4 linked regions of the Homo sapiens genome follow. The protein of the gene in region 2 interacts with the protein of the main gene of each other region in a pairwise test. Each region holds a gene or a part of one and is shown on either strand. Other genes may lie near its edges. The genes, in order: NDE1, ARNT2, NPAS2 and RFX6.

Region 1 (8,325 bases), on a different chromosome or scaffold from region 2:
CAGGAGAATTGCTTGGACTTGGGAGGCAGAGGTTGCAGTGAGCTGAGATCATGCCACTACACTCCAGCCTAGGCGACAGAGCAAGACGTCTCAAAAAAAAAACAAAACAAAACAAAAAAAAAAACTTCAGGGGAAGCAGAGCCATGACTGATGCTCAATTCCCCAAATAAGGGCTTTATTTTTATTTAACTAATTAATTAACTTTTTGATATGGAGTCTTGCTCTGTCACCCAGGCTGCTGTGCAGAGGCACAATTTTGGCTCACTGCAATCTCTGCCTCCAGGGTTCAAGTGATTCTCCTTCCTCAGCCTCCTGAGTAGCTGGGACTATAGGCACATGCTACCATGCCTGGCTCATTTTTCTATTTTTTTTGGTGGAGATGGGGTTTTACCAATGTTGCCCAGACTGGTTTTGAACTCCTGACCTCAAGTGATCCACCTGCCTTGGCCTCCCAGACTGCTGGGATTACAGGCGAGCGTCACCACACCTGGCCCAAATAAGGGCTTTTATACAGGACATTCTCACAGTGTAACCGTGAGTAGCAGCTGTAGAATCAAATGATAAAAATGACCTTCTTGGCCAGGCATGGTAGCCCACACCTGTCGTCGCAGCACTTTGGGAGGATGAAGGGTGAGGATCACTTGAAGCTCAGAGTTTGAGACCAAACTCGGCAACATGGCAAAACCTGTCTCTAGAAAAAATACAAAAAATTAGCCGAGCACGGTGACACGCACCTGTACTCCCAGCTACTCGGGGGACTGAGGTGGGAGGATCGTTTGAGCTGGGAGGCAGAGGGTGAGCCATGATCCTGCCATCGTATTCTAGCCTAGGTGACAGAGTGAGACCCTGTCTCACAAAACAAGACCCTCTCTCTAGCCCTTTGTTCAAGCCACAAGACACCACCTAATGCTGCCTGCAGGGAGCAGAGGAGAGGATAAGGTTTGCTGAAATAATCCTATAATTTAAAAAGACACATGGCTGTGGGCTGGGGGTGAGTGTCTCTTGCCTGGGGCAGGCGGGTTCTCCCCGCCAGCGAGAGGTTTATTAGAAGGTACTGACCCCTTATCACCCAAAGGCACGCTGGTGCTGCTTGGCCGTCTCTCCCCGCCATCTCTGTTCTTGCTGCTCCGCCCAGAGGCTGGGCCACCTGTTCGGTTTGGGGACTGATCGTACACGAGGTTCCGGCAGGAAGCGAGTTTGGACTCCAGTGCCTGGACAGAAATACACTTTTATCTCTCAAGTTATAGGCAAGGACTATTCTGTCTTACCAGAGCCTGTACAGAAGAACGAACCCCAGACAGTGGTTCTCAAACTGTTGTGCACTGGAATTCCAAGGTGGGACCCCAAGAGGAATCCAACGTATATGCCAGTCTCAGAACCAAGCACCTTAAGTATTTGGGAGCTGGCTGGGCACAATGGCTCACACCTATAATCCCAGCACTCTGGGAGGCCAAGGCAGGAGGATGGCTTGACATCAGGAGTTTGAGACCAGCCTGGGCCACAAAGTAAGATCCCATCTCAGTTTTTTTTTTTGTTTTGTTTTTTACTTTTTTAGACGCTGTGTCACCCAGGCTGGAGTGCACTGGTGAGATCACAGCTCACTGCAGCCTCAACCTCCCAGGCTCAACCAATCCCTCCCACCTCAGCCTCCTGAGCAGCTGGAATTATAGGCATCCGCAATCATGCCCAGTTAATAAAAAAAATTTTTAATGCAAAAAATTTTTTTTAATTACGAAAAATTTTTTAAAATGTTTGGGAGCTGCCTGGAAAAAGATCACGGCTCACTGCAGCCTCAACCAATCCTTCCACCTCAGCCTCCTGAATAGCTAGGACTATGCACAATCATGCTTGGCTTAAAAAAAAAAAAAAAATTCTTTTTTAATTACAAAAAATTTTTTAAAATGGGAGCTTTCTGGAAAAATCACTAACCTACCAATTATCCAACTCCGCTTGTAGGAAGTAGGAAATCCACTTCTGGAATCCTTCACCCTTTGGTTTACCTTGTTAAACCTCTGCAGAATGGCAAGAAGTTTGGTAAGGACTTGGTCTGGCTACAACAGACCCTGAGGAAACCAAAAGGACACTGACAGCACCCCAGGCTTCTCTATACTCCAACTAGGCTAAATACTGAAATGCAGACCTGCTTCTAGAATAGCAAACCAGACAGCCAAAAACCAGAAGTAAAAACAAAAGAAATGAGTTGCAAGCTTCTATTAAGTTGTAGCTACAAATACACTGTGTACAGTGACAACTTGGTAGGAGTTAAATTATGTGGCCTTCTAGGCATCATTTTTAAAAATAAACTACAAAGAATACCTATGTTTTTACTTAAGCACAAAAGGATCCCTCCCTGTAATTAACATAAAAGCTGAAAGGCCAAATTCTTTGCCCTAGGCTTTCAAGATTTTTTTTTTTTTTTTTTTTGAGACCAAGTCTCACTTTGTCACCCAGCGGTGCGATCTCAGCTCACTGCAACCTCCGCCTCCCGGATTCAAACAATTTTCCTGCATAAGCCTCTCAAGTAGCTGGGATCGCAGGTGCCCACCACCATTCCTGGCTAATTTTTGTATTTTTAGTAGAGATGGGGTTTCACCATGTTGGCCAGGCTGGTCTTGAATTCCTGACTTCAGGTGATCCACCCATCTCGGTCTCCCAAAGTGTCAAAATTCACTTAAACCCCAAGAAACAAACCAAAAAAAAAAAAAAAAAAAAAAAAGGTGGCAGTTTTTTTCTCTTCTGAGACAACGTCGTGCTGTCACCCAGGATGGAGTGCAGTGTTGGAATCTCAGCTCACTCAGCCTCAACCTCCCAGGCTGAAGCAATCCTCCCACCTCTCAGCCTCCTGAGTAGCTGGGACCACCAGTGTACACCATCAGGCCTGGCTAATTTTTGCATTCTTGTAGAGGCCAAGTCGGGGCAGGGGGTTTCACCATGTTGCCCGGGCTGGTGTCAGACTCCTGAGCTCAAGTAATCTCCCACCTTGGCCTCCCAAAGCACTGGGATTACAGGTATGAGCACCCGGCCAAAAGAGAAGGCAGTTTCCAAGTGCTCCTTAATTTTTCGAGTTAAGGAAAAAACACACATATCACCCTAATTTCCCAAATTTCCTAGAGGAAAAACGGTAAAAGGAAAGAGACATACATAGGGTTCAGAGCAGGGCTTCGAGTCAGAGCTCTGAGTGTCTGGCAGTAACTCCCACAGGAAGCTCTAATGATTCCCAGGGATGCTAAAGGAGCAGCCACACCTAAAACTCACCACACTGCTATGAAAGGGGCTGGACGCATTGGCTCATGCCTGTAATCCCAGAACTTTGGGAGGCCAACCTGGGAGGATCACTTGAGGCCAGGAGTTTAAGACCAGCCTGGGCAACACAGCGATACCCACATTACTACAAAAAAATGAAAGTATCAGCCAGGCATAGTGGCGCACACCTGTGGTCCAAGCTCCTCGGGAAGCTAAGGTGAGAGGATCGCTTGAACCCAGGATTTTGAGGCTGCAGTGAGTTGTGATCATACCACTACACTCCAGCCTGAGCAACAGAGCAAGACCCTGTCTCTAAAAAAAAAGAAAAAAAGAAGAGAGGGAAGGAACTAGATCAACCCCCTTCACACATCCTGAAAGACAGGCAGGAAGGCACCAAACGCCAGGAAAGTGTGGTCTTACCCCGACTTTCCGCAGTAGGTCTCCCACAATGTTGAGGGCTGATATCCGGGCCGCAGGTGTGAGGGGGGTCCCCCCGGTGGAGTCGTCCAGGCCTGGGTGTGCAAAGGGAAGAGCATGTAACTCACCAACCTATAGTCATGTCTGTGCGTTAACATCGCTAGATCCAAAACCACGGGACAGGAGGGACACTGACGCCTTTCCTCGGATCCCAAAAGCTACCCTATTTCTTTCCGTAGTTAACCGCATCACACACCCAAGGCCCGTATGACAACCAATTTTTCAAGTCCTTGTGATGACTGCAACAAATACTTATTTTTACATGTTAGTCTTGCTCTGTCACCCGGACTGGAGTGCGGTGATGTGATCTCAGCTCACTGCAACCTCCGCCTCCCAGGTTCAAGCGATTCTCCTGCCTTGGCCTCTTGAGTAGCTGGGATTATAGCCATGTGCCACCACACCCGGCTAATTTTTGTATTTTTAGTAGAGACAGAGTTCCATCACGTTGTCCAGGCTGGTCTCGAACTCTTGACCTCAAATGATCTGCCCGCCTTGGCCTCCAAAAGTGCTGGGATTACGGGCGTGAGCCACCATGCCTGGCCTTTAACAAATTTTTTTTTTAATAGAGACAGGGTCTCACTATGTTGCCCAGGCTGATCATGAACTCCTAGTTTCAAGCGATCCTCCCACCTTGGCCGCCCAAAGGGCTGGTATTTACAGGCATGAGCCACCGTGCCCAGCCACATTAGTCTTTTTAAACAAACCCAAAACAAATCCTTTTGAAATTGTAGAAAATCCATATAGTTAATTAACATAATGGCATCTGTGATAGATACAAGAACTATAGACAGGATGATCCAGCTTTACAAGGGTCCCGCTCTGCAGAGCCTCTCTTCTCCAAGTGGGGTCCATGCACCAGCAGCACATGAGAACTGTTAGAAATGCAGAATCTCTCGGCCAGGCACAGTAGCTCACACCTGTAATCCCAGTGCTTTCAGAGGCCGAGGCAGTTCGATCAGTTGAGGTCAGGAGTTCAAGACCAGCCTGGCCAACATGGCAAAATCTTGTTTCTACTAAAAATACAAAATTAGCTGGGCATGGTAACAGGTGCCTGCCTGTAATCCCAGCTACTCGGGAGGCTGAGGCATGAGAATCGCTTGAATCCAGGAGGCAGAGGCTGCAGTGAGCCAAGATCAATGCCGCTGCACTCCAGCCTGGCCGACAGAGCAAGACTTTGTCTCAAAAAAAAAAAAAAAGAGAGAAAGAAATTTCAGGCCCCACCCAAGACCCACTTGATCTGAGGTACATTCTACCAAGATCCCCAGGTAAGCTACATGCATATTGAAGTGTGGAAACATAGCCAGGCATGGAGTTGCATGCCTCTAGTCCCAGCTACTCAGGAGGCTGAGGCAGGAGGATCACTGGAGCCCAGGAGTTGGAGGCTGCAGTGAGCTATGATTGCACCACTGCACTCCAGCCTGGGCCACAGACCAAGACTGTGTCTCTAAAAACAACAATGAAATAAAGTATGCAAAATGGCTCTAGACTGGGGCTAGGCACAGTGACTCATACATGTAATACCACCACTTTCAGGGGCTGAGGCAGGCAGATCACCTGAGGTCAGTAGTTTGAGACCAGCCCGGCCAACATGGTGAAACCCCATCTCTACTAAAAATACAAGATTAGCCAGGCATGGTGGTGGGCACCTGTAATTCAAGCTTACTCAGGAGGCTGAGGCAGGAGAATCACTTGAACCTGGGAGGAGGGGGTTACAGCGAGCCAATATCGCACCATTGCACTCCAGCCTGGGCAACAGAGCAAAACTCCATCTCAACAAAACTAAACAGAAGGGCTCTGCACCGGAATTCTAGAAGTCTCACTGGTCTCTTCATGCCCAGGGGACAAGCTAAGGGATAAGGTAGTAGATGGTAGGGTAAGCCCTGGAGCCTGCCTGCCTGGGTCTGAATCCCAAACCATCTGCCATTCAATTGCTTCATGACTCTGCTTAACTCAGAGCCTCACTTTCATCAAACGGGGACAGCACCTGCATCCTGGGCCTGCGGCGAAGGCTGCAGGCTGGCCAGCACACACTGAGCACTCCTTAACTGTCTGTTATTAATATCTGCTGTAAAAGGCCTGATCGGAAGCTGTCAGCAGAGGGGCTGGGGTGAGAACTGAGATTCTTTTTTTCTGCCCATGCAGCACACGTTACGCTGAGTCTAGCTCTCGGTGGATGTATTACTAAACCCACAGAACGCTTTTTACTTTTTTGTATTTGGTCAGTGACATTTCAAATTTGGGAGGTTTTATATTCAACAAGAGGATTTTTGACCAGGCGCGGTGGCTCACACCTGTAATCCCAGCACTTTGGGATCAGCCGAGGTGGGCGGATCACTTGAGTCCAGGAATTTGATACCAGCCTGGGCGACATGGCAAGACTGTGTCTCCACCTAAAATACAAAAGTTAGCCAGGTGCCTTTAGTCCCAGCTACTCCGGAGGATGAGGTGGGAGAATCACTTGAGCCCACGATGAAGAGGTTGCAGTGAGCCAAGATCACGTCACTACACTCCAGCCTGGGCAACAGAGTGAGATCCTGTCTCAAAAAAAAAAACCCAACAAAAAAAAAGAGGATTTCTGGCTTTGAAGAATGGAAAAAGCTGCAGATGAAGGGCCAATCCTCGTAGCTGCAGAGTGGCAGCCACCCGCTCTGGGTGGGGTTTCCATTTCATCAGACTCCACTACTGCCTCTTACCCAGTCCTCACTGATCTCAATGCCCATCCCCAAGAACATCCCAGTCTACTCTCTGCTCAAAGCCTGAGAGCAAATCAGGCTCTGAGCCTGATGCAAATCATCACACCCCCAGGACCCACCCCAGATTCTTACCCAGAAACACTTTGTGAACCGAGAAAATCCTGCAATTCCCACTCCCCTTACCACGTCTGAAGCTCCCAGGTGTGTTTAAACTTGAGCTGGGTCCTCGGTGAGCAATGGGCGTGGACGGCACGGAGCCCGTGGCCTGCACAGCTGTGTCTGTCCTCTCAGCTTCCACTGAGCTGGGCATGGGGGTCCTGGGTTTCTCCTGCTTCTGCTGCACGGCCAGTTCCTGCCGCAAATCTGTGCCAGAAAAAGGATTCAGGAATTCAAGTCCTCAGCCAGGCGCAGTGGCTCATGTTTATAATGCCAGCACTTTGGGAGGCCAAGGCAGGTGGATCGCCTGAGGTCAGGAGTTCGAGACCAGCCTGACCAACATGGTGAAACCTCATCTCTATTGAAAATACAAAAATTAGCCCAGCATGGTAGTAGGCACCTGTAATCTCAGCTACTCAGGAGGATGAGGCATGAGAATCATTTGAACCTGGGAGGCCAGGGTGGCAGTGAGCTGAGATTGCTCCAGCGCACTCCAGTCTGGGTGACAAGAGCAAGACTACGTCTCAAAAAACAAAAAGGGAATTTAAGTCCTTGCTTAGGGTTGGTGGGGTGCAGGGAGAGAGGTTCAACAGTAGATACCAGTCAGAAAAAAGACCTACTGGGGTGAAACACTCCAGGTAGAAACCCCAAATAAAGGGAAACCCACAGGACCTTGCCTAGCAGACTTGGAACTCTACAGGATGTTTCTCTTGACTAACAAAATGGTTTCAGATTTTTAAAAAGCTATGACAGTGACACACTAATGCTTTTATTATTGAAAAAACAATTCCAACATAGCAGTGTATTTAGAACACTAAATGAAAATATGCCCGGGAGCAGTGACTCATGCCTGTAATCCCAGCACTTTGGGAGGCTGAGGTGTAAGAATCACATTAATCCAGTAAGTCGAGGCTGCAGTAAGCCATGATCATACCACTTCAGCCTGGGCGAGAGTGAGACCTCTGGCTCAAAAAAAAAAAAAAAAAAAAAAAAAAAAGAAAAAAAAAAAAAAAGGCCAGTTGCACTGGCTCAAGCCTATAATCCCAGCACTCTGAGAGGTCGAGATGGGAGGATTGCTTGAGGTCAGGAATTTTCAGGCCAACATGGCAAAACCCCGTCTCTATTAAAAATACAAAAAATTAGCCATGCGTGGTGGTGAGCGCCTGTAGTCCCAGCTGCTTGGGAGGCTGAGGCAAGACAATCGCTTGAGCCTGGGGGACAAGCAGTGAGTGCAGTGAGCTGAGATCACGCCACTGCACTCCAGCCTGTGTGACAGAGCAAGACTGTCTCAAAAATAAATAAAGTATGCTTTCCAGACTATCCCCAAATGCTCCTCCTCACTCATCATCACCATAACATGTGGGAGAGCTTTTCAACCATTGTTCTCTGAATTTTTTTTTTTTTTTTTTTTTGAGATGGAGTTTCACTCTCTTGCCCGGGCTTAAGTGCAGTGGCACAGTCTCGGCTCACTGTAAATCTGCCTCCCGGGTTCAAGTGATTCTCCTGCCTCAGCCTCCCAAGTAGCTGGGATTACAGGCACGCACCACCACACCTGGCTAATTTTTGTATTTTTAGTAGACACAGGGTTTCACCATGTTGTCCAGGCTGGACTCTAACTCCTGACCTCAGGTGATCCACCCACCTTGGCCTCCCAAAGTGCTGGGAATACAGGCGTGAGCCACTGCGCCCAGCTGTTCTCTCCATTTTCAAACATAAACTTTATACATATGTATGTATCTACTGAGCATAAAACAAG
Region 2 (4,728 bases):
TGGTTAATTTGTTCCTTTGGGGCACCTATGAGGCTTAAGGATTCAGGAAATAGGTTGCAGGCTGTCAGTTTTAAACGGAAAGAAAAGCTTCTCAATGAAAACCTGCTGGATGGGGCCTAGTCCTGCTACCCAGAGTTTACCCCTCCCACCTTCAGTTCACCTTCGACTTAACTCAGTTTGTCTTTATTAGGCCCCTGCTGTGTGCCGTGCTCTCTGCATGGCCTTTGCAGGCTAAATCTCTGACCCTGCTTAGCTCCTCGGCAGGCACTGTCTGTACCACCAGGCGCTTCTTCCAGGAGATTTTCCAGGCTATGTCGATTACATGAGAAGCTCATCAAAGACTAAAAGGCTGGGGGCAGACTTTTACTTTGTTTCAGGCCCCTCCTCCTGCCTCCCTGGGACTAGCTCAGCATGCAGGGCAGTGCGCTGGGTGCCCATGAATCAGTCAAGTAGGGCAGAATGGGGCTCATCACAGAAGGCTTTGGTAGATTTTCAGCTCCGTGTTAAAAAAAAGGCAAGCCAGAGATCAGCAGAGATTGGGTAAAATTTTACTATTGTATTCTAATAAGTTTCCTATGCTATCTGATCCCTTTTAAAATAGGGAGAAACCAAGAATGTCAGAGACATTCTTGAGCTGATCATTGTAAAACAAGTTCAGTGGCTTATATAAAGGGGACATCATTTCTGTCTTCATACAATCAATTCCTCATTTAACATAAGGGCTCCTTTCCCATTCTCCTTCCTGATGAAAGTATTGCTTCAGAGGACATTTTCTGGTCACTATTGTCTAGTAGGACCCTCTCCACAGCCCCCAGCCCTTGGTGTCCTCCCCAAAACACTGACTGATGAGGGCCGCTACAGCGTAGACGGTCCTAGGAAAGGCGCCTTGGCAGAAAGGGATGGGCTTCTTGGGGCAAAGCGCCAGCCCTTGTGCACAGCCCTCCCTGGGGGCCTCTGGGCTACAGCTGCCTGCCTTAGTGTGGACAGGCAGGGGCCAAAACTGGCGGGACCAGAGAGGGAGGACTGTGGGTGAGGATGCACTTCAGGTGCCAGCAACACCATTCTGCAAGCGGCCCAGGATTCCCTATGGCTGTATTGGGCCCCAGAGTCCTTCATCCCACAGCCTACCCCATCCCAAGCCAGCTCAGATCCTTCGGATATACAGGAAATTCTGCCCATTCCACAGGCTTTAGCCCTAACAGGCATCCTTTAATTAACTCAGTCATTTATTCATTCATTTTACAGACTAGTACTCAGCAAGTGCCTTTTCTATGCCAGGCTCTGCACAGGTGTTCGGACGTTCCTTGGATTCCTTCCCCACACTGCCAGCTGCCCCAAACCTGCTTTTCCTTCCCCATCACTCATCACTGCCCTGTGCACCCTACATTTTTGTTTCTATGACAACAGCGTTACCCAGGCTCTGCACCTCACGCTGGACTGTCTGCCCTGAGCCCTGTCTGCAGCTTCACTCTTCTCCCAAAGGTCATCAGTGATGGTGTCCTCCTCCTCAGCATGGTCCCCACGGCTGCTGCTGCAGACACAGCTCAGGGCAGACAGTCCAGTGTGAGGTGCAGAGCCTGTGTGAGGCCGTTGTCATAGAACAACGTGGTCATCCTCTGTTTCTCCCATTAGTGAGGCCTCCTCCAACAACACCTCCTCCAAGGCTTCACTCAGCACACCCCTCAGGCCCTTGCACCCCTGCCCTGGTCAGGAGGCAGAACCTGACTTTTGCTTTCAGGCCTAGCTGAAGAGTCAGCCAGACCTTCTCCGGTCATGCCACCTTGGGCTGTCCCCTTGCCTTTGAACTGTCCCCTCCTTACCTCCTGCTGCTGTGCTCTCCCTGATCCCCTTTGTCCAGAGTGGAGGACAAGCAGCAAGTGTCACAAGGACCCCATGAACATGAGCACCCAGGCAGGGCTGGCACAGGGCTTGGCATCAACGGAGATCGGTCAGTGCGTGCTGAGTAGCTGAGTAACTCAGCAGCCAAGAGAAGTCTGGAGGGCTTGACTATTGCTCAGCAGAGCAGCGTGACCTGCGGTGATGATGGTTAGGGACTGCTCACAGAGGGCTGCCATCTTGTCTGCTGTCCCCAGACCAGAGGCCCTGCCTGCAGCCAGGGCTCCCCAGAGCCTCAGAGCAGTGTGCAATTCAGCAAGACTCAGCTGCAGGCGTGGCCAGAGCCCCTGCAATGTCTGCTAATCTGTCTCCAGGAGGTCTGTCCTTGAACCAGTGTGGAAGCAAAATCCTCATTCCTTGTGGCTAGGGCAGTCCCGTGGCAGGGGCCTCTCTCTGGGTGGCCGGCCCCACCTGCCCTCCTGGCCTCTGCATCTGGAAGCTCTGCTTAGGGTCTGGCCAACCTCACTGGAGAAGCCCTGCCCTGCTGGGCATGAGGAACTTTAGGGTGTCTGGTGGGCACAGGTGAGTGCCCACATACCCTCCCCAAGAGCTGCCAGCCTCTTCTCTGACCGTTCTTCCCAGTTGATGCTTCTGTCTCCCCAGAAGTCAGTGGAGCCAGGCCTTGCCTCCAGTGATGATGTCAGGGCTTCCTCAGTGACCTACCAGATGCCCTTGATGCTAAGAACCAACCCTTGGGAAGGTTGGACACCCTGCCTGAAGCCTTGAGTGCCCTTTAGGATGAGGCTCAGACGTGGTGGGCTGAGCTGACCAGTCTTCCTTGGATTTGGCTGTAGCCTCTGGGCACCAGATGACAGGATACTTCCTGCTACCTTGTCAGCTGTTCCCAGCTCCAGCTCACTTGGGTCCTGGCTAGAGGGAACTCACTCCCTTCTCCCTGGCAATCACTGCCACAGAACACAGTGGCTGGTGCTGTTCACATCCAAGAAAGAGTAACTGACACCAGGAATCTATGGCAACTCATAGAGGGCTCACAGAGCAGAAGCAGAGCCACCAGAATCCTCAGTTTAGTCCAAGGCCTGAGCGCCAGTAACCACTAACTCATGCTTACAGCCCACAGAGCTGTGCTCTGAGACCCAGGGCTTTCTTGGTGAGGGAGCATCTTCCCACGCCATTGTCCCCCTCGCTGGCACATACCTGAAGGCCTTCCCGGAGTGTCCAGAGGGAAATGGGCTTCCTTGGGAGTAGATCTGCTGGGTTCCTGCTGCAGAGGCTGAGCTCATCATCTTCTTCTCCGCTAGGAAAACCAGAGCAGGAGTCACATGCGAAGGTTCCCTGCTCTGCAGACCACAGAGGAGGCTGCCCCAAGAAGAGGTGCAGGGGTGGGCGTGGGAACGGGAGGACACAAGTCAGGGCAGCCCGCCTGCACGCAATCTTCTCAGCCTTGCCTCTGCCTCCTCATCTCCCCTGGAGCCTCCCTGGCATATGAAGGCACTGGGCTGTTGTTCTTGACCCCTAGGCTAGGCCACAGGCTGCTTGACGGCAAGGCTTTTTTGGAGAGTGGGGAAGATTAAAAGAATTAATGAGGCTAGGCATGGTGGCTTGCACCTGTAATCCCAGCATTTTGGGAGGCTGAGGCAGGCGGATCACTTGAGGTCAGGAGTTCAAAACCAGCCTGGCCAACATGGTGAAACCTTGTCTCCACTAAAAATACAAAAATTAGCCAGGCATGGTGGCAGCCATCTGTAGTTCCAGCTACTCGGGAGGCTGAGGCAGGAGAATCGCTTGAGCCCAGGAGGCGGAGGCTGCAGTGAGCTGAGATCACGCCACTGCACTCCAGCCTGGGCGACAGAGCAAGACTCCACCTCAAAAAAAAAAAATTAATGAGAGTTCTTTCTCAGACATTATTTTATCCAATCTTTCCAACCCTGCGGTGTAGGGATTCCAAGTCCTCTAGTTCTGGGTGAGGAAGCACAGGGTAACAGCGAAGAGGATGGACTCTTATCTCAGCTCTCTGGGTCTGAATCCCATCTCCAAGGTAAGAGGTGCAACCTTGGACTGTTACTTAATCATCCCCTGCCTCAGTTTCCCAACAGAAAGAAGGCGAGAATAAAAGTATCTTCCTCAGAAGGCTGTAGTGGCAATTCAGTGAGTTAACCTAAGTGCTTACGACAGTGCCTGATTAAGGGAGCAAACAGAAACTAAAAGTTTGCTATCGTTTGTTACAGATGAGAAAAGTGAGTTGTAGCTTGTCCAAAGTCATGAGCCGGCGAGGGAGGGCTCAAGGCGTGAATGCAAGCCCAGTGCTCTTCCCACTCTGGAACTCAGCTACCCCTGGCCACCCTCACCCAGCAGGTGCCGCAGCAGGTGATGTCCAGGGAACAGCCCTGGATCTGTGTGCCTTGACGTTCCACTAGGGTTTCTTTGAGAGACTGAGCTCCTCTAACACTGAAAACACTCAGCCCCTGGCCAGCAGGTGCAATAATGCATGATTTTCTGCCACCGCAGAATGGTGAGCAGAGTCGTCTCACCCACAGGCTCACCCACAGCCACACGGCTGAAGAAATGGGCTCAAGACCCAGCTGGCTGTTTAGAATTTTACACGAGAGAGAAGGTGCTTTGTATGGTGGTTTGAGAAACAGGAGTGGGAACACGAGTGGTGGCAGGGTGCTAGACAGCAGGCTCCAATGTGACAGTTCTCCCTCCTTCGGTCATCGAGGGTGCCCAGGGCTCTCTGCAGTGCCCTCCCAGTGCCCCAGAATCTTCAAATTTCTACCCATCTCATTCCTACAATCCCTAACATGTTCACCCGCAATGCGATATTGGAATAAAGGAAATAAAGTTTAGTTACCATACCCTGGGTAACTGGTATAC
Region 3 (8,325 bases), on a different chromosome or scaffold from region 2:
GCCCATGCCACAGGTGAGCCATCCCTCTGCCCCTATATCATGAGGCAATATTATCATGACTGCATCATGCATTCCACTCACCAGGTATTTCTCCCTTCTAGGAAGAAGCTGGTAAGCCAACCTCGACTCTAAACAAGTACATCACATTATTTAGAGAACATCTGGGTCTAAACAGCTTTCACATTGTTAGGCCTCAGTCACTTGCCTGTAACCTTCATGAAGGCAGAGAGAGTGTCTCTCCAGCCCATGGCTCTGTGGCCAGTGCCTGACACTGAGCTTGGGGCATCACAGGTGCTCCATGTCCACCAGTGGAGTAAATGAACTATTTCTAGGCAGCTCAGAGCAAGAAAGTTCTTACTGGCACAGGGAATGCAAAGGAGGTGCACACTGGTGAGGTACCCATGACCCCAACTTCACAGGCATTTCTATTCTGCTCCCAGATGTTCCTGCAGCAGCCAGCTGTATCCCTGAGCTTCAGCAGCACCCAGCGACCTGAGGCTCAGCAGCAGCTACAGCAAAGGTCAGCTGCAGTGACTCAGCCCCAGCTCGGGGCGGGCCCCCAACTTCCAGGGCAGATCTCCTCTGCCCAGGTCACAAGCCAGCACCTGCTCAGAGAATCAAGTGTGATATCAACCCAGGTAAATGTGCTCCTTGCCAGCTTCACTCCTTGCCTCTAGAGCAGACACCCTCTTGCAGTTTGGGACATACTTGATTCCTGCAGCCTACGTGAACTGAGGCCTACTGCCCTGTTCCGTTATGGACTGAGGGTAGATTTGGGAGTGAGCCTTCTTTTCCTTCTTCTGTTAAAGTCACTTTGAAACCCCAAGTTGTATTGGCTTCCTTCTGTGTTTTATAAATGTCCACCTCAGTCCCTTGCTCTCGTGCTTAAAGATATCACTCGGCTGAAATGTTCACCTTTGATGCTGACTTAGGGTTGGAGGCAGATATGGCCATCCCAGAGACCCACTGGCAGCTGAATGTCCCAACACTCAACGTCCATGGTCCCCGCCATCTACTCTGGTTTTAACCATTACCCACATGAGCAGCCACTGCTGTTCACTGTCCCTTGCCCCAGGTGCCCCCTGCTCCTCCAGGCGCCCCCTGCTCCTCCAGGCCCCCACTGCTCCTCCAGGTCTCCCTGCTCCTCCAGGCCCCCATTGCTCCTCCAGGTCTCCCTGCTCCTCCAGGTCCCCCTGCTCCTCCAGGCCCCCACTGCTCCTCCAGGCCTCTCTGCTCCTCCAGGCGCCCCCTGCCCCTCCAGGCCCCCACTGTTCCTCCAGGTCCCCCTGCTCCTCCAGGCCTCCCTGTTCCTCCAGGCGCCCCCTGCTCCTCCAGGCCCCCCTGCTCCTCCAGGCCCCCACTGCTCCTCCAGGCCCCCCAGACTCTTTGCCAAACCCTTGTAGCCATTTCCACCTATTCCAAGCCACCAGTGACCTTGCAATTGGACAAAATCGCCAGCAGATAAATGGCACTCAAATGGAATGGAATTCAGAAGTCTGGAGCAGGGCTTCTGGAGGATAACAGATGGGAAGGCAGCCTTTCCTCCAGCCTCACATTCCCATGCCCTCGTGGCTTTGGTAAAGTCAGCTGAGCTCCTGGAATTCACCAAGACCCAGGGGAACAATGATGAGCAAGAGTTGTCCTGGGCCTCGAGGAGCCTGTAGTCCAGTAGAGAATCTGGGAACTTAGATAACCTGCAGTACAATACAGATAAACACACATATGGAAGTGTTTAGGCCATCTTTCTTCAAATGTAAGGGTTTTGCTTGAAAATACAGCCTTTTGATTTAAAAGGTCATCAGAAAAATAGGTGAGAAGAGCTAAGAAAATTTTGGAAAAGAGAAAACTGAGGAAGGATTTATACTATCTGATATTGGAAAATTTTGTAAAAACTAAGAATGAGAGCACTGTGTTATCGGATGAATGGACAATCAGTGAAATAGACAGAAAACCCAAAGCAGGTGCAAGCCCACTTCCTCACTCATTTATTATTTCACTCAGCTCCCTGCGTGCCAGGCACTAAATTCTGAGCACTGAGGGAAAGCAGTGAACAAAAAAGAAAAAAGAATTTCTGTTCCAAGTGAGGAGAGAGACGAACATGTGAAAATTATAGTATGTGCAATGGTACAGGAATGCTGGTGAGGGCCAGGAATGGCTGGAGGTGTAAAGAGGTAGCCAGGTAAGGCCTTTTGAAGAAGATAATATTTGAGTCAAGACCTGAGGGGGTGAAAGAATGAGCCATGTCAATGTCAGGGGAAGAGCATTCTACAGAGCAGTCAGCTCGTGCAAAGGCCCTAGGGCAGGAGTAGGCCTGGTGAGTTGGAGAAACAGCCAGGAGGGCCATGTGTCTGCAGTAGAATTTGAAGCAGAAAGTAGTTCAGTTCAAGGCACATTTGCTACTTGCCTGCCTAGAGTCCGGCACTGTCCTAGGCCCAAGGGATTCAAATACAATCCAATGGGGAAGACAGTCACAGATCAAAGTAATTCAGTAGTTGGGAGGTTCTGATTTAGAGGAAAGGCAAGGGTAGGTAGAAGGAGGAGACACTGGGAGGTTTCCTGGAGAGATGGCCCAGGGTTGAGTCCAAGTCTTACCTTTCTCATTGAAATGATGCTCCAGGGTCCAAAGCCAATGAGAAGCTCACAGCTAATGCAGAGCAGCGGCCGCTCTGGAAGCAGCCTAGTGTCCCCGTTCAGCAGCGCCACAGCTGCGCTCCCGCCAAGTCTGAATCTGACCACACCTGCTTCCACCTCCCAGGATGCCAGCCAGTGCCAGCCCAGCCCAGACTTCAGCCATGATCGGCAGCTCAGGTACGAGACTGCCCTTGTTTAAAGGATAACCCAGGCATCATTTTACCCCATTCATTTCAGCTCTACTTTCTGCTTTAGACGGAGGCAGAGTTCAGACAGATTCTAAAGTGTCCACAGTTGATCTCAGCTAAGGAAGCAGAGGACAGGGCTTGGGATCCTGAGGTCCAGGGGAGGTTACCCGCTGCGTCCATCATCCTCAGAGAATGAAGCCAGGAGAGTGGGGATTAGAGTCAACCATAAAGGGTCCAGCCAGGCTGAGCAAGTGCTGCCACGACCAGTGGGTCTGTGGTTCAGGTGCTGATCAGTTTCCTATTTCCCCACCTCTGCTTAAAGGCTGTTGCTGAGCCAGCCCATCCAGCCCATGATGCCCGGGTCCTGTGACGCAAGGCAGCCCTCGGAAGTCAGCAGGACGGGACGGCAAGTCAAGTACGTGGACCCTGGCGGGAGGCAGGAGGCAAGCGCTGGTGGAATGGTTCCAGGCTGGCCAGACTCACCCGCCTGGGCCAGCAGCACTCACATGAGCCTTGCGCTAAAGGCAAGGTCTGAGTGTGCCCACAGCTGTGAAGGGGACGCTGCCCCTCAGCTTTTCTTCTACCGTGTCCCAATTAAGCAGAAAAAACTCAGCGCTCCATGCTTACAGCAGCACTGAATGAAACAATTCACACCCCACCGTTTGCCATCATCTTCCGACTTCCTTACACCTGTAAAGCCCTCTAAAGCCCTCACCCCTGGAGACATCCCCCTTCCCAAGGACCCTCCCCCAGGCTCCAGCTGACATGCCGCAGGCACACTTGGTGCTCCGTGCTTCTGGCACCGTGCTCGGGCCCGTCTCTCCCAGACAAGCAGCCCCCTCTCTGCCTTCCCCAGCCTCCTCTCCACTAGCACCGGTAGGACCAGAAGCAGCTTTACTCAGCTACTTAATTACTAGGGACAACGGTTACTGGAGACACGGGGAATAGTTTAAAAGCTGCTGGAAAACAGTTTCTAGCCCTTGGGAATGAGGCAGAAATAGAGCTATCACACAGACATCTCCTTCATGTTAACACTGGTTGACTTTGTGTCCAGAACTAACCAGGACAGTGCTAGCCGATCAGGCCTGGGATGCCCTCATGTAGAAGCCTCGCAGGCACCCCCAGGCCCCTCTCCCTAGAAGTCCTTCTTCTGTGCCCTCCTTCAGCCAGGACAGAGAGTAACGGCAGATGGTTACTGCCTTTCTGAGGGTCAGGGTCTGTATGTTCATTATTTAATTTTATCCCGATAAAAACCCTAGGGTGTAGGCACATGCTCGGTCTTTTTTTGTTTGTTTGTTTGTTTTTTAAACCAGTGAAGAGGCTGGGCTTTAAAGGGGTTAGATTACATTCTCGAAGGCCACACAGTGCAGATGGTGGGGCTGGAGGCCAGCTAACTCCAGGCCACGGGCCCCTTGGGCTCCCTGAATCTTCAAAGTCCACCTTGTTGGCCCTGTCTGGGGTCTCCCTATGCCTCAGGATAACTTTCTAGGCAGCCTCTGCCCCTGAGACTTTCTGGCCCTCCCTTTGGTCACAGGAGGGTAAGGAGGGACCTGCAGGTTGTGGGGAGCCATCTGTAAAGTTCCGTTCATGTCTATCATTAGGTGGGAGGAAGTGGGCTGGTTTTGCTTCTGGATTTTACCTGTTCTTCCTAAATGATCCAAATAAGTGGAAATAGGCTGGGCGCAGTGGCTCATGCCTGTAATCCCAACACTTTGGGAGGCCAAGGCGGGCGGATCACCTGAGGTCAGAAGTTCAAGACCAGTCTGGCCAACATGGTGAAACCCCCATCTCTACTAAAAATACAAAAATTAGCCGGGTGTGGTGGCACGTGCCTGTAATCCCAGCTACTCAGGAGGCTGAGGCAGGAGAATCACTTGAACTTCAGTGCTCTGTTGGTGGGAACTGTCCAGTGCTGCAGCCACTGTGTTAAATGTCGGCTCTGTGTCCCCACCAAAATCTCTTGTTGAATTGTAATCCCTAGTGTTGGAGGTGTGGCCTGGTGGGAGGTGATTGATCATGGGTGGGGACTTCCCCCTTGCTATTCTTGTGATAGAGTTCTCCCTAGATCTGTTTGTTTAAAAGTGTGTAGCCCCTCCCCCTCGTTCTCGATCTCCTCCCGGCCATGTGAAGTTACTTCCTGGTTTTTTGATAATCACCATTGTAATGAGTGTGAAGGGACATCTCATTTTGGTTTTGATCTGCTTTGCCCTAATGGAATGGCTACTGATGCTGAGTATGTTTTCATGTGTGTGTTGGCCATTTCCAGGTTCTCTTTGGAGAAATGTCAGCCCCAATGCCCATTTTTTGATTGGGTTGTGTGGGTGTCTTGTTGTGGAGTTGTAGGCATTCTTTATATATTCTGTTATCGGTCTCTTATTAGATATGTGATGTGCAAATATCTTCCCCTACTCTGTGGGCTGCCTTTTCCCTCTGTTGATAGTGTTGATAGTGTCTTTTGATGGACAAAAGTTTCTTTTTTTTTTTTGCTTTGAGACGGAGTCTCACTCTGTCGCCCAGGCTGGAGTGCAGTGGTGTGATCTCGGCTCACTACAGTCTCCACCTCCCGGGTTCAAGCTATTCTCCTGCCTCAGCCTCCCAAGTAGCTGGGACTACAGGTGCCCAACATGACACCTGGCTAATTTTTATTTATATTTTTAGTAGAGACGGGGGTTTCACCATATTGGCCAGGCTGATCTCGATCTCCTGACCTTGTGATCCGCCTGCCTCGGCCTCCCAAAGTGCTGGGATTACAGGCATGAGCCACCGCGCCTGGCCAAAAGTTTCTTATGAAGTCCAACTTATTTGTTTTTTCTTTGTTGCTCGTGCTTTTGGTGTCGTATCAATACTGCTTTCTTAAAGGACCTGTTTTCTCCTTCCCACGTGAAACAGGTACGCCCAGAGCCAGACCGTGTTTCAAAATCCAGACGCACACCCCGCCAACAGCAGCAGCGCCCCGATGCCCGTCCTGCTGATGGGGCAGGCGGTGCTCCACCCCAGCTTCCCTGCCTCCCAACCATCGCCCCTGCAGCCTGCACAGGCCCGGCAGCAGCCACCGCAGCACTACCTGCAGGTGGGTGCCACGGCCCAGGGGGCCCCCGTGCAGGCCTGGGAGCCGGGCCACGCTCCACACCCGAAGTCTCAGAGATATTTTATTCCCTTGCTTTCAAGGTTGTTCTATCCCTAGTATAGAAGTAAGCCCCAGAAAGATTGTTATTTGATTGTTTTTCATGCTTAAAGTTTATGAAGTCTATGTCTACAGAGTACATGAAATTACGAGTCGGCTATTATGCCTTATGTGGTTATGTGCTAAAAAGGTTCTTTTTTAAAAAAGTAGTTTCTACTCAAGGATTTGCATCTTGATATGTTCACAGTTTTTAGAGCAAAAGTCGAAAAACATTGATGACTATGTTGGACTTTTCAGTGTGTTTATAAAGTCCTATATAAACATAAAGTTAAATCACATTTAGTTAAAGATCCATTAACCTGCCTTCATAAATACAGTGATGTGTGAAATTGGGCTTGCCAGGAAAATTTGGAGCTCATTTACATGTGGTCACTACTTCGAAGGCAAAAATTACTTCAAGCAAGTGCCAAGTATGTCAAAAGCAGGGAGGGTGAGAGCCACTGGTCCGCAGGTTCACGTGGGAGCCACACGTCTGCGTCTGCCAAGCTGCAGAAGGGCCTGGCCTTCCCTCACCCATGTGCAGGGTGCCCCTCTTCACCCCAGCCCTTCCCTGTCCTGGGGGGGCTTCCTCCCTGGCCTGCAGCCCCACCTGCACCTGCAAAGCCATGGAGAATGAGCAGTAGCTGAGACCTCTTGAGTACTGTAGATAGTGATGAAGATAGCTGTCCTTGAAGTTCTAGAACGTAATTTAATTCCAGTGCCGCTAAGCCATCTGTGCTATAATTTTCAGATCTCCCTGACCCCACACATAGTGGGAGTCAACTCAGACTTTGGCTTTGCAGATCTTGTCAGTTCTCGAGACCCAGAAGTGATTTTGGATGGGAAATGAGCAACAGACAAGTTTGCATGCACCTGTTGCAGACAAGATGCAGGCTATGAATACAGAGAGCGCTTCGGCCCACTCACTGCCCTTAGGGGCTTGGGGTGGGGTGCAGAGAGGTGGGTTAGCACAGAATGCAGTCAGGCTCGGATTTGGGAACAGTGGGAGTGCTGTGGTGGGGAAGCCTTTGTGGAGGAAGGGACTTGAGGAGAGGGAGGGCTCAGAAGGCACCCACTGCAGAGTCTGATGTCCAGGAAATGCCCGAAATGTGGGTGAGGGTGAAGATAAAGGGACAGTGTTCCAGCCAGACAGCCTGAGCAAAAGTTCAGGGCAGCTGTGCCTGGGCAGCTTTGAGAGCAGGGGGGTGCTGGGTTACTTGCAGGAGGAGATTTCATGGAAGGGAATAGTGGGTGATAAGACTGAAGTTTCCAAAGTCAGGCTTTGGTCAGTCAAAGCTTCTAAACTTCCAATCAAGATGCTCCTAGTAGGTGCTGGTGAATCTGGAGGTAGCTACGGGATCAGGGACCAGCAGTGAAAAGTGTACAAACTGTATGTGTGTTTGGATTCTGCCCTGTCAACTACCTGCATGTGGCCTCAGGTTCCATCATCCAAAAACATTGTGGCTACATGTAGATCATGTGCACGTGTTTACGAAACCATTCCCCATAGCCATAGCCACAGGCCTCAGTCGATTGGGCCAGAAGGTGCCCCCACTATTGGCGGAGAACTTAGCTTCAGAATTCACCCTAAGGTTCCCTTAGTCCCCATCCCCACCACACCCCCAGGTCTTGCCAGAGCCACCTCTCCCCACATGACCCCCCAAGAAAGACAGCCCTGTAGTCTAACTCAACCTGCAGCATGCCCCGCACTGCCTTGTAAGACAGTTGAGGAGCGGACATCAGAACCACCTCTGAAGCCCTTTGTTCTTTTTTTTCTAGGTACAGGCACCAACCTCTTTGCACAGTGAGCAGCAGGACTCGCTACTTCTCTCCACCTACTCACAACAGCCAGGGACCCTGGGCTACCCCCAACCACCCCCAGCACAGCCCCAGCCCCTACGTCCTCCCCGAAGGGTCAGCAGTCTGTCTGAGTCGTCAGGCCTCCAGCAGCCGCCCCGATAATGCCCCGGCACTGAAGTCGGGACACAATCAGCTTTAACCAATGGATGAGGGGGGTGGCCACAGGAGATGGGGAGAGGAGTCTGAACTAAACCCCTGGCTTTTGTGCACACTGCATACGTTTCAGAACTCCTGGATGGTAACCATCTCTGGAGTGCAGCGCTTGCTGCAGTGGAAATGATCAGGAATACTGACCGTGTTTCTCTTGCCTCCGAGGTTCTTGGGCACACTCTATAGCCATACTGGACAGGAACCAGGTGCCCCGTGTAGGCATCGTCGGTCGGTTTGCCGTCAGAGATGGCGCATCTCGCTGCATCCCCCGAGAGTACACCGGTTGCTCTAGCCACCTGCGGCCCGCCCATCTGCGCTAGCTGGCCTTCACGC
Region 4 (8,325 bases), on a different chromosome or scaffold from region 2:
CTTTTCTGAGCACCCATATAACTGCACTCCAGGAATCAAAAAACAGCTTAGAAGACACACTGTCATGTTTCTGACCCATCTTTCCTGTTCTATATGACTTGGGAGACAAATAGGGTTAAGTTAGCTTTTTATAAAATTGAATGCCTTCTTTTTCCTTAGAATTCCTGAGACTCCTATTTTATAGTTATAATGTTAACTCATGAGTAGTAACTCTGCATTTGGTAGCTGCATTTCAGGAAATCTTCACATTATGAAAGAGATTACAATTAACTAAATTGTTTTTATTTAATGTTCTATAGAATTAAATAAAATCAGTGAATTTGTATTGAAGAATAAACAAAACACATTGTCTATTATTTGAAATAGACTTCCCATATTTAAAGTTTTATAAAATATACAGCATTGAAGCCTGGCCTTACTACGAAAAATACTTTTGTTGGAAAATCTATTGAATAGTTAAAAGAAGTTTTAGTTTTCCAGAACATATTTCACTTGAAAATTACTCTTTTAGTTTTTGCCAAATCTAAGAATATTTTGTTTCAGGCTAGAAAGATATCTCTTTACTTGACTTTTTTCAGACCATGTTGGCCATTGTCTAATTATTTAGTACAAAGTAAACAGAAATAGAGCAGAGTAGAGCTCATTCTCCCCAAGTTGAAGCTTATCACACTCCAATGTGTGCCCTCTTAAAGCATAAAGCATGTCTCACTTTCATCCGTATTTTCCTTTGATGTAATTAGTGGCCAAAGAGCTGGCAGGACAGTACACACAGTGAGCAGGGCAGGCAATACACAGAAAGATTAGAGATCCAAGTTAAGCATGTTGGTCTTAGCAGGTCATTTAAAGTCCAACAAGTATTTGTTTATTTCAGTTGCTCCTTGTAAAGTGTTGCGAGATGGTCACAAAGATAACTGACTTCTCTTTCCCTTTCCTTCTCTTTCTCTCCCCTTTTTACATTTCACACTGTCCTCTCCTCATTCTCCATCCATAAACAAGGTTCTTTTCATTTGATTCGAATGCTTCTCGATGAATACATTCTCCTGGCCATGGAGACCCAGTTTAATAATGACAAAGAGCAGGAGTTACAGAATTTATTGGACAAGTATATGAAGAATTCAGGTAACTTAAAATAACTGTTTTGTTTTGCATATTTCTTTGTTTTAATCTTAAGTTCAAGAATTTATAAGTTCAGATATTAAGTGGGTTTATCATAATCTCAGAGTTTTTCTCCAAACATGTCATTACTAATTCTCACCATACAGTCACACTATTGGAGCACTACTTTTCTTTCATTCATTGCTATGTAGTCAAAAGTACTTTACTGGAAACTCTGAAGTATACAAAATTGGTGATCTTAATTTCTGGGAATTAAGGTGAAGTTGGAGAAGTGACTATAATACAAAAAATAACTGTAATTCAAGACACATGTGGTATACTACATATGTAAGTGGTGTAAAAATAAGTTCTATAGGAGTTTAGAGAAGGAAGGAAACACATCTATTCAGGATAGGGCAACTTGCATTTTGAAGACTTCACTCCAAACTGGATTATTTAGTGCTCCTTATCTACATCCACATCCGCAAATATGCAGCTAAAAAAAACCTAGCATCACTGTCAAGAGCAAAGGTCTGCCAACCTCACTTCCCATGGGAAACATTGCTTAGTAGTTTCCAGATTAAATACTCAACAATGAAACATTTTCATTTTCTTTTTACTTGGGTTTATCTACGAGGAATGTGAGAAAAAATCTCAAATTTCCCATTTTAAAAACTCTTTCCAGATGCGAGTAAAGCTGCTTTCACTGCTTCTCCGAGTTCATGCTTTCTGGCCAACCGTAATAAAGGGAGCATGGTTTCCAGCGACGCTGTGAAGAATGAAAGCCACGTGGAGACAACCTATCTCCCTCTGCCATCCAGTCAACCTGGAGGCCTAGGCCCTGCTCTGCACCAGTTCCCTGCTGGGAACACAGACAACATGCCGCTCACAGGTACGCTAAAGAGAACTGCTTAGGCTCCAGCACATCTCAGAGAAGCCTGTTGCTTCATTTTTCTTAAAACTCATAACTTCCAGTCCAGGAATTCCAACAATAAAAAAGGATGATCTTAACTGAGTTTTAATAAAGATTTATAATATTTTTGTGATTTTCAGCAATGGTAATAATACTGTTATTAACACAGGTATCATGTCTTGACACACTCCATAAATTATATTAGAAGTATGAATAATTAGTTAATTTAGTGGAAGAAATAATTAGATGAGGTATACATAAAATTCTTAAGATGCTTTGAAGATCAAAAAAATGGGTTGCTTATTTCTGGATTTTGAGGAGACTTTATTTCTCCTCCCTTAAAAAGTAGTTTCGGGCTGGGTATGGTGGCTCATGCCTGTAATCTCAGCATTTTGGGAGGCCGAGGCGAGCAGAGCACCTGAGGTCAGGAGTTTGAGACCAGCCTGCCCAACATGGCAAAACCCCGTCTCTACTAAACATACAAAAAATTAGCCGGGCTTGGTGGCAGGCGCCTGTACTCTCTCTTGAACCCAGGAGGCGGACCTTGCAGTGAGCTGAGATCAGGCCATTACACTCCAGCTGGGTGACGAGAGTGAAGCTCCATATCAAAAAAGCAAACAAACAAACAAAAAAACTGGATTCGGCCATTTTAGGATAATCGTTACAATAATTCTCCCTTTTGGTCTAAGGTTCTCTTTGTGTCAACATGAATATTTGGTGGCTTGAACTAGCTACTCGGGAATATTTTAAATCTGCTTATTGCCTTGTGTCTTTTTTGAAATCTTTTTATATACATTACTTCATTTGATATACAGAATTTTAAACCTAGAAGAGCCTTATAGTTCAGGAGTCCATTTCTACCAATGGAACACTGGCGGCCCAGAGAGTTGGTGGCATTCATAAATCACATTACTTATAAGAGGTGTTTGCATGACATTTTGAATTGACTGCTTTGAAGCCATGGCCATTTTGACATTAGTGACTTTTTCTTTTTACCCTAAAAATCAAACAGTTTAACAATCAGCTAATTTTTTAATTATGGGGAAATATGAGCAGCAGACACACATGTCCTCCCCATGCTACCTGTGGAGAAACCATGAAGCCATCGCAGACTTTCCTCTGTAGTCACCAAATCCACGTCTCCACTGTTGTGATATATACATGTGTTGTGATTATATTTTTTAAATTCTGGATTTTTGGTGCTTTTCAGTTTAGTTATTTTTGGAGGGCAGGAATGAAGCAAGCTGGAAAACAATACATTAATAAATCTTTTGAATATTTTTTAAAGATGTGAGCTCATCTACTTTAATATGACACTAAAGGAATGTTCTGGTGATTTTTTCCAGGTCAAATGGAGCTTTCACAGATTGCTGGTCATCTGATGACACCACCCATTTCTCCAGCCATGGCAAGCCGAGGAAGTGTCATTAACCAAGGACCAATGGCAGGGAGGCCCCCAAGTGTGGGCCCAGTACTGTCAGCTCCATCACACTGCTCCACATACCCAGAGCCCATTTATCCCACTCTCCCTCAAGCCAATCATGACTTTTATAGCACCAGCTCTAACTACCAGACTGTGTTTAGGGCACAGCCCCACTCCACATCAGGACTCTATCCTCATCACACCGAGCATGGTCGATGCATGGCTTGGACTGAACAGCAGCTTTCAAGAGACTTCTTCAGTGGCAGCTGTGCGGGGTCTCCATATAACTCCCGGCCACCGTCTAGCTATGGCCCATCCCTGCAAGCCCAGGATTCACACAATATGCAGTTTTTAAATACAGGAAGCTTCAATTTCTTGAGCAACACAGGAGCTGCCAGCTGCCAAGGAGCAACACTGCCTCCTAATTCACCAAATGGTATTGATATTTAAAAGAATTTTTCTTGGTTTTTGAGATGGCAATGAGGCAAAATCAGACATTGCGTTCCACCTCTGCTGACTAGCATGTCCTTTCATTTAAGGCTTCCAAAGATCATGGAATCTTAGACATTTGGAGCTGATTTCTGTCACATACATATATATTTCCTAATTTTTGTGGCTTTCCTAAAGTTGCCCTTCTTCCTTTTTTTTTTTTTTTTTTTGAGACAAGGTCTTATGCTGTAGCCCAGGCTGGAGTGCTTGGCAGGATCATGATTCACTGCAGCCTCAAACCCCTAGCTCAAGCAATCCTCCTATCTCAGCTTCCCAAGTAGCTGGGACTACAGGCATGCATCACCATCCCTGTCTATATTTTAAATTTTTTCTAGAGACAAAGTCTCACTATGTTTGCCCAGGCTGGTCTCAAACTACCAACTTTAAGCAATCCTCTCTCCTTGGCTTCCCAAAATGCTGAGGTGCCTCCCAAAGGTGTGAGCCAACACCCCCGGCCTAAAGCTGTCCTCCTAAATACCGCATATGTTAAAAAAAAAAAAAAGATAGTTAAATCATATGTTTGAGACCTACCTTAATAGCCCCAAAGAAGAATGTTCTGTCTTTTGAAAACATTTTTAGTGGATAATATTTCTTCCTGATAACTAAAAGCAGATTTTAAAGATTGGGAACAAAACAGACCAATAAAAATAGGAAGTTAAGGGAATTAGAGAGACCTGTGACCTTGAGTCACCAAAATAGGCTTTGTGTGTAGGCTTCTTTGGTGTCTTTCTCCTAAGTGTAGGCCAGTCTTTGTCTTCCCTAAACATGCATCTATACATGAAAGTAGTATTTTTGTGACAGGCGATAGTGCTTTTTTTCCTTCAAAGGTAGATCTTGTTAATTTAGATAAGGGAAATCTGACAGAAGTGTAATCTGGTCTTAAAGTTAATACAATTCTTATGTCTTAAATTATGTATTATGCTATAATTATTGTATTAAATTATGTATGATGCTACAATTCTTATGTGTTAAAAAACACAAAAAACAGCACAGTAAACCTTATCCATGTACAAGCACAAATCCAGTTCTGTAGCATGTATAGATACACATGTAATACTTACAGTTTGATATCTTTAGGACGTCACCTCATTACTTTGTCACTTTTTTCCTTCCTGAAAGTTCTTTGTAGTAAGTTAACAGCAAATTCTCAACATTTTCTGTTACAGGATACTATGGAAGCAACATAAACTACCCAGAGTCTCACAGGCTCGGATCAATGGTGAATCAGCACGTTTCTGTCATCAGCAGCATTCGTTCACTGCCCCCCTACAGTGACATCCACGATCCACTTAACATTTTAGATGACAGTGGTAGAAAACAGACCAGCTCGTTTTACACAGACACATCATCTCCAGTTGCATGTCGAACTCCAGTCCTAGGTAAATTATTTTAGCAGTTCTTGAAAACATTTTAAGAAGTTGTTAACCTCAGGTATGCAACATTACTTGAGGGAGATATGCTGAGGTGAACTGAGCAAGCATGTTTCCACGGTTGATTTATTACCTTGGATCTAAAGTTATATTTTTTGTATCTGACTACACAGTTAGTAACAGTTTTTCATTTCTTATTCTGTATATCTCTATTATGCAACCTACTGCTAGATCTGTTACTTTTTACAAAAAAAATAGCTGGTATCTATTAAGTATGCAAAAGATTAATATGACCTGTCAAATGCAGTCTAAAACTGTAAGTTTTAAAAGGGCAGTAATAATATCCTTTTCTCACTCTTGATTAGTGTTGGACCCAGTTGTAGTGCCAAGAGATATCTTTAGGCCTCATGATCTCCATCAGTATCCAAAAATCACTCCAAGATTAAAAAAAACTGGTGTCCTGTGATGGGTGCTACTAGCATTTTCTCATTCTTATGTAAAATGTGATTCAACACCTCTGTAGAAAATGTTGCCATTTTTATTGCTCTCTAACATATCATGTAAGTAAAAATAAGAAAAACGTGTGCTTGCCGTGAAGCCTCCTGGAATCTTCTTCCAACCAGGTTACATTTCTTAATCCTCATCTATGAAGAAATTCTGCAATAATAATTAGTATGTTATTAGTAATAACATAGATTTAGTCACTATAGATTTAGTTTCTAAAAATACTAATAAGATTTCACAGGGCAAGTATATATTCACTAAGTATCAAAGCAGAGTGTTAATATTTATATGAGATGGTTAAAGTCTTCCAATGAGATTGATTTCAGACTAGCATAAGTAGAGGGCATTGACACGCAACCAGAGCATAAGGGAAAATGAAATCAATTTCATCTCTCCTCACTCAGTGTACCTTCCCAATAATTCAATAGGAAGTACTCCTTCTCTTCCTGTCACTGTCACACATGCTCCCTGAGCAGAATCTAGCAGCTCATCTTCTGCTATCTGCAAATGGTCATTGCTTCTAGGTTACTCTAATGAAGCAGAAAATTCCACTTCAGGAAGTTTTCTCACCATGAGACTAAAATGTACTGTGTTGCTATTGTTACTATTAGTTCTGTTTACCTGAAGAGATAGTGGAAGCTTTGACGAAACATAGGTTAAGAGTAGGGTGGAGTCTAAGCTTTAGTTTATCAGAGCTGGCTTACAAGTAGATTACAAAGTGTGCTGCAGGGTAAAATGAGGGGATAGAATAAGTGGATAAGTAGTGCAAGGAGAATTGAGTTCAACTATTTCTTAAGTATAAAGCCTGGTTCTTAGACAGAGAGCACGTCATGTCAGCAATAAGAAGGCAGCAACCATATATGAGAGAAATACAGGGCTAGTGAGCCAGTTAATGAATTTTATTGAGAACCGACTAGGAGCCAGACCCCATTCTAGATGTGAGGATATGGTGGTGATCAGGCCATAGTTCTTGCCTGTAAGAAGTTTACATTCTAGTAGAGGGACAGTAAGGCAATAAATACATGAGCAAATGCATTAAAAAGATAATGTCAAGTACTCTGAACCTGATTAAATAGAGTAAAATGACAGACAGTAAAGGAGGAGCTGCTTTCGGTAGGACAGCTGAGAAAGGAATCCTGAGGCAGAAACATTTGAGTTGAAAGCTGAGTGATGAGAAGGAGGCAAAGATGTGAAGATCTGAGGGAGGAGTTCCAGGCAGAAGAAACAGTGAATGCAGAACCGCTGAAATCAGAATAAATTTGAAAAAATCAATGGGCAGAGAGCAGGCCAGTGTGTCTTAAGCATGTTGAATGAAGGAGAGAGTAGAGCAAAATAAATAAAAAATCAGGGGCCCATCTACATAGGGTAAGATGCTTGGTTCATGTTCCAAGGGTATCGGAAGCCACTATGGCATTTGAGACGAGTGAAAGTTTGATCTACTCTTCAGCAATATCATTCTGGTTGCTCTCGGGAAGGTGAGTGGGTGAAACAAAGGTGGAGATCATGGGACCAGTCAGGAGGCTGCTGTGTTGGTCCAGGAGAGAAAAGATGGTGGTTTGAACTACAACCGTGAAAGTGCAGATGGAAAGAGGAGGTTGATTGGGGGATATATTTTGGCGGTAGCACTTAAGTTGAAATGGAGTTTTCTTTGTGAAATATGTAGAGGAAATAATTTCTGGGAGACTAGCAAGTGGGAACAAATGGAAGAAAAAATGATTGCTCTGGTAAACCATACAGACTCAAATTTAGAATAGGTATGTGTGCTAAGTGCAAAAATAAATACAGGGTATTAAAATGAGTGGCATTTGCAGAGAAAAGAAAATGTCAATCAATTTTCAATTGCTGATTATATTTTCCCTTACAGCTTCCAGTTTGCAAACCCCAATTCCTTCTTCCTCATCCCAATGTATGTATGGAACTTCCAACCAGTATCCAGCTCAAGAAACCCTGGACTCCCATGGAACAAGCAGTAGAGAAATGGTGTCCTCTTTACCACCTATCAACACTGTGTTCATGGGAACAGCAGCTGGAGGCACTTAAACCACCAATGTGGGAGGGGGTGCTAAAACTTTAAAAAAAATCTCTACTGTGCAAATATCATTATTCACTCAGACTTCCATAAGAGTAAATAAAAATGAATATGCAGTGGCTGACATTGTTTTAAAGTCACTGGTACTATGGACAACTCCATAGTGAATGGAGATACTTGCAGAGCTTGTCATGCACACTAAGAGTTTAAAATGTGAGCTCATTATTAATCATAGTTTCAAAATTATCAAATAAAACCAGTGAAGATCTGAAGATGCAAACATTTCAACTATGAAGATTTACATTTCACTTTCTAATTTATTAAACATCTGTGTGCCTTTTTATCTTTGGTTTCTTTTAAAAAGTATATTTAATGCCTTTACAATACCTTTAATTTATTAGGATCTCAGAATCATTGTTTACTATCCCTTATTTGACAAAAAGTCAAATGTGTATGTTCTACCTCCAACGGAAATGTTTACAAGGTCAAGACTTAATTCAAT

The links.
Region 1: the proteins of ARNT2 (region 2) and NDE1 interact in a two-hybrid assay, tested with the Homo sapiens proteins (one large-scale study listed by BioGRID).
Region 3: the proteins of ARNT2 (region 2) and NPAS2 interact in a two-hybrid assay, tested with the Homo sapiens proteins (one large-scale study listed by BioGRID and IntAct).
Region 4: the proteins of ARNT2 (region 2) and RFX6 interact in a two-hybrid assay, tested with the Homo sapiens proteins (one large-scale study listed by BioGRID and IntAct).

Annotation. Positions count from the first base shown.
Region 1 is NC_000016.10:15,689,595-15,697,919, reverse strand, and holds part of NDE1 (nuclear distribution protein nudE homolog 1), read right to left. Parts: intron 6,777-8,325; coding exon 6,597-6,776; intron 6,111-6,596; coding exon of another isoform or gene 6,052-6,110; exon of another isoform or gene 5,754-6,051; intron 3,756-5,753; coding exon 3,664-3,755; intron 2,013-3,663; coding exon of another isoform or gene 1,934-2,012; intron 1,212-1,933; coding exon 1,060-1,211; coding exon of another isoform or gene 963-1,059; exon of another isoform or gene 795-962; intron 1-794. UniProt on the Homo sapiens protein: Required for centrosome duplication and formation and function of the mitotic spindle. Essential for the development of the cerebral cortex.
Region 2 is NC_000015.10:80,575,289-80,580,016, reverse strand, and holds part of ARNT2 (aryl hydrocarbon receptor nuclear translocator 2), read right to left. Parts: intron 3,152-4,728; coding exon 3,052-3,151; intron 1-3,051. UniProt on the Homo sapiens protein: Transcription factor that plays a role in the development of the hypothalamo-pituitary axis, postnatal brain growth, and visual and renal function. Specifically recognizes the xenobiotic response element (XRE).
Region 3 is NC_000002.12:100,987,639-100,995,963, forward strand, and holds part of NPAS2 (neuronal PAS domain-containing protein 2), read left to right. Parts: intron 1-440; coding exon 441-638; intron 639-2,617; coding exon 2,618-2,808; intron 2,809-3,141; coding exon 3,142-3,234; intron 3,235-5,708; coding exon 5,709-5,889; intron 5,890-6,785; exon of another isoform or gene 6,786-6,942; intron 6,943-7,761; coding exon 7,762-7,944; 3' UTR 7,945-8,157; coding exon of another isoform or gene 8,158-8,178; 3' UTR 8,179-8,325. UniProt on the Homo sapiens protein: Transcriptional activator which forms a core component of the circadian clock.
Region 4 is NC_000006.12:116,923,673-116,931,997, forward strand, and holds part of RFX6 (DNA-binding protein RFX6), read left to right. Parts: intron 1-996; coding exon 997-1,119; intron 1,120-1,780; coding exon 1,781-1,987; intron 1,988-3,354; coding exon 3,355-3,867; intron 3,868-5,086; coding exon 5,087-5,299; intron 5,300-7,658; coding exon 7,659-7,834; 3' UTR 7,835-8,325. UniProt on the Homo sapiens protein: Transcription factor required to direct islet cell differentiation during endocrine pancreas development. Specifically required for the differentiation of 4 of the 5 islet cell types and for the production of insulin.